Linked DNA regions of Homo sapiens: region 2 is linked to region 1. Evidence: fine-mapped expression QTL. Tissue or cell type: tibial artery. Region 1 holds a variant in brackets; the other region holds the start of a gene. All regions are shown on one strand. Distances are from middle to middle.

What was found. PIP is the estimated chance that this variant, and not a neighbour inherited with it, causes the effect.
Region 2: it holds the start of CCNY-AS1, and the variant in region 1 is fine-mapped to the expression of CCNY-AS1 in tibial artery (GTEx, PIP above 0.99).

What each region holds. Positions count from the first base shown.
Region 1 is chr10:35,561,759-35,566,855 of GRCh38, forward strand. CCNY (cyclin Y) reads left to right here. Exons shown (of 10, transcript NM_145012.6): 9 at 4,265-4,427. Among named protein-coding and RNA genes, the nearest start is that of GJD4, 41 kb to the right of the region's middle. RefSeq lists enhancers at 2,664-2,773, 2,834-2,943, 3,214-3,293. The variant A/G (reference allele first, on the strand shown) is at 2,739.
Region 2 is chr10:35,334,551-35,339,647 of GRCh38, forward strand. It overlaps CCNY-AS1 (CCNY antisense RNA 1), which reads right to left and starts at 1,874. Exons shown (of 4, transcript NR_186477.1): 1 at 1,670-1,874; 2 at 1,378-1,526. CCNY (cyclin Y) reads left to right here and starts at 1,959. Exons shown (of 10, transcript NM_145012.6): 1 at 1,959-2,657. The coding sequence starts at 2,504. RefSeq lists a silencer at 1,585-2,324.

The sequences.
Region 1 (5,097 bases):
TTGGACAGAGGGGTTCTGGCTTGGAAGGCAGCTGACTGTGCAGCTGCGTATCTGTGGGCGCAGGCTGAAGAACACTGTACGACGAGTGTCACTGAGACTTGCAGGCAGAATAGTCAGGGCACCAGGCCATGTGGATAGTCACCAGCACCAGTCAGATGTTAGCTTCAGGCAGACCTCATGTGGGAAGATGGGGCCAAGGGCCAGCCTTTCTCCCACTCTCACCAACAATCAGTGGTCACAGCATCACAGGCCAGCTTAGAGCAAGAAGTGGCAACCGCTGTGGATGGGGAAAGGACAGTGAAATTTCACCATGCAGAGTTCTGTAGGCAAAAATACTGTTAAAAAAAATTACACCTCGAGGTTTGTCTGTTTCTTGTTTTTGTTTTGCACTGTTCCCGTAAATGTCATTTTCATGTGTAGACAAATCCAAATAAGGAGAAATCAAGTGACTTGTCCAAGCATTGCATGGCACAGAAGGTCACAGAGAAAGAACTTCAGTTCCTCTGTAGATACCTGGTTTCTGGTGGTGTTTTGTTTTTAAATTGTAGTAAAATGTATGTAGCATGAAATTTATGATTGTAGCCATTTTTAAGTATACATTTCTGTAGCACTAAGTACATTTACATTGTTGTGCAACCATTACCACCATCCATCTCTAGAACCCTTCATTTTCGCAAACTGAAACTCTCCCCCTGTTAAACACTAACTTGCCATTCCTCCTTCCTCCAGCTCCTGGTGATCACTGTCCTACTTTTTGTCTCTGTGAACTTCACTACTTTCAGGACCTCACACAAGTGGGATCATACAGTCTGTGTCCTTCTGTGTCCAGCATATTTCACTTGCCAATAATGTCCTCAGGGTTGATCCATGTTGTAGTGTGTCTGAATTTCCTTTCTTTTTAGGGCTGTATAATACTTCACTGGGGGTCTGTGTCCCATTTTGTTTATCCACTCATCCACCCATGGACACTTGGGTTACCTCCACATTGGGCTAGTAAGTGGAGGCTGTAAGTGTGGCTATGCAGATACCTTTTCAAGACTTTGTTTCTCCTTCTTTTGGGAAGTGACCCTAGTTTCTAGAAAAGTAGGCAGCATATTAGATGATTAAAACAGCTCTTTTTAACATCATTTTAGAGTTCTATTTTCAAGTTGCTGAATTGTACCAAATTGGGTTTTTATACAGTGTTGATCTAGTGTGACAAATATTTCTGAAATGTGGTTTTTGTTGGTCGACTTGAATATATTTCTTACAACGTTTTACACCAAAACTGTTTCTTCATAGTTATCTAAATGCAGATAGTAAATCCATCAGGCCCATTCTTGGCATCACGTTAGTTTTCTGATAATTTATCACATAGCAAGCTGTCAGTGTCCCTGTAAAAGATGTGCTGCTGCAGTTTGGAAATTCAAGTTTTGGAAATTATTTTTATTTTCTAAATCTTTAGAAAAAAATTCATTTTTTGAAAATACAACAGCTCTAAAATCTATTTTCCCAAAGCTTAACCAGAAACTCAAGCTTGGAGAAGGTTGTTCTGTTTTCCAGGGAACCCTGGGAAAATACCGCCTTGTTCAAAAGCAGCTTCCTCTTGACTTTGCTCGTAGTGTCTGCCTCCATCTGGAACCATGGTGTCTGTATATCATTTTGGGCAGGATTATCAGGCTGTTCTCTTAGACTTTTCTTCTTACTATTGGGAGAATACGCTTTGCAGTGACGCCTGTTGACCACCAGACGGCGGTGTGTCCATGGCAGCTCCCAGGTTCACTTGGGATTTGCTCCTTTGACGTTTGACAGTTCTGGCCTTAGCAGGGCCTCTGACGCTTTCGTTTTGTTGAAGTCTTACCTGGATTCCAGTATTTCACAGGATGATCTCTTATTAAATCTCATTTAAATGAAGCATAAATAAAAGTTGTTTTAAGTAAAAATTATCCCAAATCAAAGTAAATTATTATTTATTTATTTATTTTTGGGACAGAGTTTCGCTCTCGTTGCCCAGGCTGGAGTGCAGTGGGGCAATCTCGGCTCACTGCAACTTCCGCCTCCTGGGTTCAAGTGATTCTCCTGCCTCACCCTCCTGAGTAGCTGGGATATTAGAGGTGCCCACCACCATGCCTGACTAATTTTTTTTTTTTTTTTTTGAGACAGAGTTTCGCTCTTGTAGTCCAGGCTGGAGTGCAATGGCGCAATCTTGGCTCGCTTCAACCTCCACCTCCCGGGTTCAAGTGATTCCCCTGCCTCAGCCTCCTGAGTAGCTTGAATTATAGGCATGTGCCACCATGCCCGGCTAATTTTCTTTGTATTTTTAGTAGAGACGAGGTTTCACCCTGTTGGCCAGGCTGGTCTCAAACTCCTAAACTCAGGTGATCCACCCGCCTCAGCCTCCCAAAGTGCTGAGATTACAGGTGTGAGTGACCACACCCAGCCTAAATTCTTAAAACTATGAAATTTAGTACAGTAAATACATTTGGAGCTTGTTATCACTCTTTTCACGAGGCTGTGTGGAAACAAGCAGTGACGCTCTTCATCTGATGAAGAGACCGGAATGGGCCTTCCTCGGGCCTCCTTCCTTGCCGCCTGCCCACAGGTCCCAGTGCTCCTTTCCCCAGCAGCTTCATGTCTCCCCAGAGCCACTGGCCTTGCTCAGCCCCAGCCTCCCCACCCGCCTCCTTACTGTTCTTGTCCTTTGTCACAGCAACTTGAGCTGGTGTGGAGCCCTCCTCAGTCCTTCATAGCTGAGTGCT[A/G]TGAGTCACCGGGAACAGCCATAGGGGTCTCGGGACATCACTCAGGACAGGATGGTGCCTGCATGTGAGGCTCAGACCCAGACCCTCAGCGTTCAGCAGAGTTGGCAGGACATGACTTAGAATGCCGAGGCTGGGATCAGGGTCAGGAGGGTGAGGCCCTGCACTAGGGCCCTGGCTTCACTCACAGGAAATGGTGACTGTGTGTTTTGGCTGCCTGCAGCAGGTTGGAGGGGACCCACTCTGCCTGAAACACCCCCTCCTCAGCCCTGGTTCCTCTCCGCCAGAGCTCCATGCTTCCCTCACCTCAGTTCAGCTCTCACTGCTGTGGGAAGCCTTCTGAGATCATGTGCTGGGGGCCAGGCATGCAAAAGCAGATGTTGCACTTCCTGACTATGAGGAGAACAGCCCAAGAGGCTGAGTTCAGCAGCCACATGCTGCATAGTGTGGGCAAGGACAGGAGGTTTCCTGGAGGGTGTGCAGTGGGTGGGCACCCTGTGGGTGGGCACCCCTGGGGGCTTCCTGGGGAGAACGTGCTGAATCTGAGTGCATGACCCAGGACCAGTGCTCCACAGATAGTTCCCTCACTGAGAAGGTTCCCCCCACCCAGAGGAACTATCTAGAAATAAACCTAATTTGAAAGATAGCTGACATGAGAAGTTCTTAAAGTAGAAGTTTTTGAATTTCTCCCAGCATTCCATCAACATGTAGATGGGTTGGCAGGGTGGATCTTAGCACCTCCTCTCCCAACCTACCTTTTTAGTTGAGTGGTTCTCAGAGTGTGGGCCCGGGGCAAGAGCCTCAGCCTCACCATCATCTGGGAGTTCCTTAGAAATGCACATTCTCAGGCCCCACTGCAGACCTACTGATCCCCACAGTGTGAAGGTGGAGCCCCCTGTCTGTTCTAACAAGCCCACCAGGTGATGGGGTGCGTGCTCAAGTGTGGAAACTACTGCTTCCATTCTTCCCGGCTTGTGAGTTCTCTTTTTAAGAGACTGAGGCAGAGACTGGACACCCTCCCCCCATAATCCCTGCCTTTTGCCTAAGAAAGCCCCTACACAGTTCCTCCCTTCTTTTCTCCCTGGAGGTAGGGAGGGGCCACCGAGGAAGCCAATGTCCTCTAGGTCTGCAGAGGCTGAGTGTTTTCCTCTGGGCCCCTGCGGAAGGGCCCTCACTGGACTCCACGTGGCAGCTCTTGGCTGCTGCATCCACCCTTTGTTAGCAGCCTGTCCTCACGGAGACCTGCAGCCAGAGCCTGCTGTGTGTGTGTTAGATCTCAGTGAAGTGATTCGCCCTGAAACGCTTCCTGGTGATGATCCCAGTTAACCAGTCCTCATCCTTCTGGGCACCAGATCAAGTGGATTTGGCTTTTAATCCCAATATGGTGGTCTAACCAGACATTTACTTAGATCACTGGTCTTCCTGGAGGATGCAGTTTTCTGGAGTCTGGTCTCCAGCAACTTGCCTTGGCAGGCCACGTGGCCTGGTGTGGCAGCTAAGCATAGGCTATTTTTGTCTTTGCTTTGCAGGAACGAGCTAGAGCGACAGTTTCTTGAATTGCTGCAGTTCAACATCAATGTTCCTTCCAGTGTCTATGCCAAGTATTATTTTGATCTTCGTTCTCTGGCAGAAGCGAACAACCTGAGCTTTCCCTTGGAGCCCCTGAGCAGGGAGAGGGCTCACAAGCTTGAGGTAAGATGGTTTAAAACAGCGTTTTGTGGTGCAGTGTTGCCAATACATCATCTGAGTACCAGAGATGCATGTGGTCACATTGATCATTTCCCCCACTACATGATGTAAAATAAAGATGAGCTACTAGGATATATAGCTGGGCAGTTGATTATGATTTGTTCTGCTTCTTTTTTCTTTGAGACGGAGTCTCGCTCTGTCACCCAGCCTGGAGTACAGTGGTGCGATCTTGGCCCATTGCAGTCTCTGCCTCCCGAGTTAAAGCAATTCTGCTTCAGCCTCTCAAGTAGCTGGGATTACAGGTGCCTGCCACCACACCCGGTTGATTTTTTGTATTTTTAGTAGAGATGGGGTTTCACAATGTTGGCCAGGCTGGTCTCAAACTCCTGACCTCAGGTGATCTGCCTGCCTTGGCCTCCCAAAGTGCTGGGATTACAGACGTGAGCCGCTGTGCCTGGCCAGCCACTTCATATTTTTAATAACCAGTTTAATATCACTTTATACTTAATAAGCAAAGGTTTTTTGTTTTTTTGGGTTTTTTTGAGATGGAGTCTTGCTGTGTTACCCAGGCTGGAGTGCAGTGGCACGATCTCAGCTCATCACAACTCCGCCCCCTGGGTTCAAGTGATTCTTCTGCCTCAGCCTCCCTAGTAGCTGGGACTACAGGTGTGCA
Region 2 (5,097 bases), 230 kb before region 1:
TATTTTGGACTGTTGTTGTCTACCCACCCTCTCCAGGGCTTTAATTCTTTAGAACTTCCCTTTTACACTTCTTTTCTCATCTGGTCAGCATTACCACTTTGCAGCCACTTATTTTCCATGGACATCTGCCACTTATCCTAACAAATAGCATTAATACAGTTGAGAGCATGGAGCGTTTAAAATATGGACTAATAAATGTATAAACAGTACTTTGAGAGGGAGGGAAAGCACAGGTTAAAAAATGGCTAGATGTAGAGAATTAAATGAAATGTTTATAAAGCCGTTCACACGATGTCCACACATTGCTGATGCTAGATAAATATCAAGTCCCTTATTCCTTCTCTTACCTTTTAGTAACTGGATTTGTCACGAACAGGTACTGAGGTCTGCATAAATCAAGGCATGATTTCATCTCTGGGCCTCAGTTTCCTCATATATAAAATTAAGACAGTTGTACTATTGTACTAGTTTTTTTTTCAAGAACTAGTTCAAAAACATTCCCAGCTCCCACCCCCACCCCCCCACCCCACAAGACTCTCCTCAAGACTCCTTCAGTAAATATTTGGAAAAAGGGTGGGAAGTTTGTTTCTGCCACCTTATATTCTTCCCAATAAAGGCAAGAAAAGTCAGGGATGGCTGGCATTGTGGGCGTCGGGAGGGAATGCGAACCAACATTTACTCTACTTCTCTCCCAGCCAGGCATGTTCACATACCTTGATCTTAGTCAACTGGCCTAAGTTAACTTGTTCCCAACATGACAAAACCCGATGGCATTCTAAAAGCAAAGCAAAGCAAAGCAAGGGCAGTCGATGAGTTGTGTTAACTTAGTTTTCTATCTCATGTTAACCTCCAAGGAACTCAAAACAACTCCACAGCGAATTCAATATTAAAATAGCTCTGGGACCCCAAGATTTATTTCACAGCTTAAAGCAAGGTCACTATCAAGTCCTCGGCAAAGCTCAAAATACAATAGAAAACTCCCAAATCAAGCCCCAGCTTATTTAAATGCTTAGAAAAAAAAAATAGCCAGGTGCCGTGGCTCATGCCCGTAATCCCATGGGAGGAGTCCAGACGGGAGGATTCCTTGAAGACAGGAGTTCGATACCAGCCCGGGTTACGAAGCGAGATCCCATCTCTACAAAAAGTTAACACACACACACACACACATTCACCACCTTAGCCTGGCTTAGTGGCGGGCGCCCGTGTTACAAAGGGAGATCCCATCTCTACAAAAAGTTAACACACATACACACCCTACCTTAGCCTGGCGTAGTGGCGGGAGCCTGTAGTCCTCGCTACTTTGGAGACACACACACACACACACACCCGTAGTCCTCGCTACTTTGGAGACACACACACACACACACACACACACACCTTAGCCAGGCGTGGTGGCGCGCGCCTGTAGTACCGGCTACTTTGGAGGCTGAGGCGGGAGAATCGCTTCAGCCTAGGAGTTCGAGGCTGCAGTGAGCCGAGATTGCGCCACTGCCCTCCAGCCTGGGCGACAGAGCGAAATCATACCTCTAAAAAAATAAATTAGAAAAATAAAAAGACAAAAAGAGCCAGCCCGGTTTCGGAGAGGCAGGTGCAGCCTCAGCGCCCTGGGCCTGCGTCCCCGACCGGGCCCTGGCTGCGCTCCCGCCCGCTGCGGGCCCCGGGGACGCACCTCGCATCCCGCGCTGGGCCCCGTTCCGTCCAGCCCGGGGGAGTGGAGGAGGCAGAGGCCGGGTGGGGAAGGGCCTCCAGAAACCGAGCTCCCGACGACGTCTCCCGCGACCCCAGTGCCCGAGAGAGGAGCGGCCCCCGGGAGCGATCCCACAACCGCGCGGGGCTGCGCCGCCCCGAACCTCCCCGCGGCCGCCGATCTGCTTCCAGGGCAGAGGGAAGGGGCGGTGACGGGGCGGGGCGGGGGCTGCGGCGAGGGCGGGCGCCGCTGGCGAGGGAGGGCCGCCAGCATCCTCCCTGGCCGCGCCGCACCGCGCCGCGAGGAGTCCGGGGGCTGCGCCCACGCCCGCTGCCCGCCCGCTCGTCGGCTAGTCCCGCCGTCCGGCGCGGACACGCGTGCCCCCGGCTTGAACCGGAACCTCTTGCCGAGGCGGCCGCCGTCGCCGCAGCCGCCGGGGAAGCGGACACCAACTGGGGAAGCGCGGGGGGGAGGCGGCCTGCGCGGCGCCGCCCGCCATGGCCGCGGCGGGGTGAGGTAGGCGCGGCGGCCGCAGTCGCGCGGACCCGAGCGCTCCTCCGCCGCGGATAGGCCGGCCGAGGGGGAGCCGGGGCCGTCGCCCGCTCGTCGCCGCCGCCGCCGCCGCCGCCCATGGCGAGGCCCCGCCGCCGCCGCCGCTGCTGACCCGGCGGCCGGCCGCCGTTCCGCCCCCTCCCGTGGCGGCGAGCGGGCGGGCCTCCCCACACGCCCCCGCCGCCCGCGCCCCGCGTCCACCCGCGCCCCGCTCCCGGGGACTGGGAGAACAGGATAGCAGCAGGAGTCGGGGGGCCGCCGAAGATGGGGAACACTACCTCGTGCTGCGTGTCGTCCAGTCCCAAGCTCCGGAGGAATGCCCACTCCCGGCTGGAGTCCTACCGGCCAGACACGGACCTGAGCCGCGAGGACACGGGCTGCAACCTGCAGCACATCAGCGACCGGGAGAACATAGACGGTGAGTGCGGCCCGCCGAGCCCCCTACCCGCCCCCGCGGCAACAGTCGCACAGCCAACGTCGGGGCGGCCCGGCTGCTCTTGCTTGCCCAGCCGGTCTCGGCGACCCGTGCATAACCGGGGCTTCGCCCGCGCAGCCTAGGCGCCCGGGGCCCCGCAGCCTCTGGGCGTACCCCTCGCTGGTTACCCCCAAGTGAGCGGCCGCGGAAACTTTGCAGGCCCGCGGCATCGAGCACGGCGGGCCTAGGGCGGGTGTGTGCGCGTGGGTCGCGAGGTGACAGGAGCCGGCCCTCGTCCTTAATGGAGCGGCCAGAGCTGGGTGGGGGCGGCCCGGGAGCTCGGGGTTCCCGGCACTACCTGAATGCAGCCCGAAGCCAAGTTGTGCACGCGTTTGTCCTATAAAAGCGAAGTGAGTGGATTCCCATTTTGGAATCCCGGTGTCTCCAACCTCGAGTTGGAGAACCATGTTGAGTCAGTTCCCCGGAACCTTACAAATGGACTCCACTTCCCCCGTTCCCATTCTACCGTTTTTTTTAAAAAATGATTTTTTTGAGTGGCGGTTCCAGGATTAGTCAAATAGCTTCTCCCGAGAATGCTCTTTAAAAGATTGTCAGACACCTTTGGGTTAAGTCTCAGTTTTTGCATGGGCCCGAATTGCAGTCCTATGAATTTCTGATTTATTCAGGTGACTTTTGGTTGGTCTGGAGTTTGCAAAAAGAAAAAAAGCTAAGACTAATTACTGCACGCAGTAATGTTTTATTTATTTTATTGGTTTGGCAACATATTTATTAGCACTGTTGCTCAGTGATAACGACAGAGGGATATTTATGCATCATGCTTAAAATATAGTTTATAGAATTTTCAACTGAAAAGATTTGAAATTGGAAGTATCTTTTTATGACAAGGTGATTTTTTTAACCCAAACATCTTCTCATAGTTAATCTGGTTGAACTAATATGAAGAAATTTTTGTGTGAATGAATGAACACAACTTCATAATTCGTTCCTGTCCACTTTAGGATGGAAGATTCTCTCCACTGTGGAAAGGCCACATTTAAACTTTGCTAAAGGAAAGATTTTTCTCGTTTGTCTTCGTGTAATTTCTTCTAAATGGTAGTTTAATCTTTTTAGGAGAGCATCTTTATTAAATGAGTGCCATGTATAAAGGGAGTAACACAACGTCTGGTTTCTAGTACGCGCTTAGTAAATTATGGTTCCATATGACGTGTCTAGTGTTGTTATTTTAGATTTCCATTATTTTAAACATACGCTTAGATGTCTTTGAACTACAGCCATACTTTCTTCTTAAATTTATGCATTTAAAGGCATCTAGAAGGATGAAGGCCAGATCGGTCTTGATCACTTTCACAGCCTCTAGCACCTGAAAGAAAAGTCTAGCATATAATAAACAGTAAGTATTGTACTTTAAAGGGAGGAATAAATGAATGAGTTTATTACAGAAAGCCATTACCCAGTCCTATACTATGTTGACAGGCGAAAACATTTGGAAATAATGTCTTCTTTATGATGTGCAGTAAATTTCCTTTTTATGTTGTGCAGTATCTAGCGGAGGCTTTGTTTTGAATGATGGATCAAAAAAGAAAAAAAAGAAGATTTACATTTCTTAGAGCCAGGCTGCATACAGTTATTATAGACTATTGTAAGGAAATAAGGTGGAAAAAATAAGTGTAACCAGGTATTTGGCACTAAGGCTCAGTACAATTTTGCCAGAGTACAGTGAAATGATATTGTGTGTTCTTTCATTTCAAAGAAATCTTAAGTTTCAGTCATCAGGAATTTTTGAGAGAATGTTTGGAAGACTCTTTTGCAGATTCAGGATAGTTTGAGAGAGTATAGGGCAGGTTTCCAATCTAGGCTGTGGAGTGCCCTCTCATCCCAGATCCCAGTTCATATGATTATGCTAGTTTAAACCCCGAAATATTAATTCACCTTCTGTCTCTCAAATTCAATAAATAATACTTCTAGCATTGACCCAGCCAGCAGTTCTCAACATTGGTTTCAGTTAAACCAGAAATCTAGTACTGGACATTGCCATTAATATGTTTAAATCTCTCCAAGGTGATTCTGAGATGCAGGTAGGCCTGAGAATTGCTGGCTGGGCAAATCTTGGAAGTGTTACCTGCCGTTCAGGGACATTTTTGGTAGAAATTCATTATTAGAGGCTGAGAGAAGAGAACAGGTTTTAATTAAATAGAGTGTATATATATACACACTATATACATCTATATGTCTGTATTTGCTCATCTATATCTGTATGTATTTGAACTGAGTTATATTGATTGTTAGGTTATTAGTAAACATTTTAAAACTACATTTTAAGAATCATTGACTCTAGTATATATCAAAAGCTGAAGTACTCAAATACCATATTTTTTATGTCCTGAAAAACATCCCACCCAGCTGGTTTAGAAAGGTTTGAAGT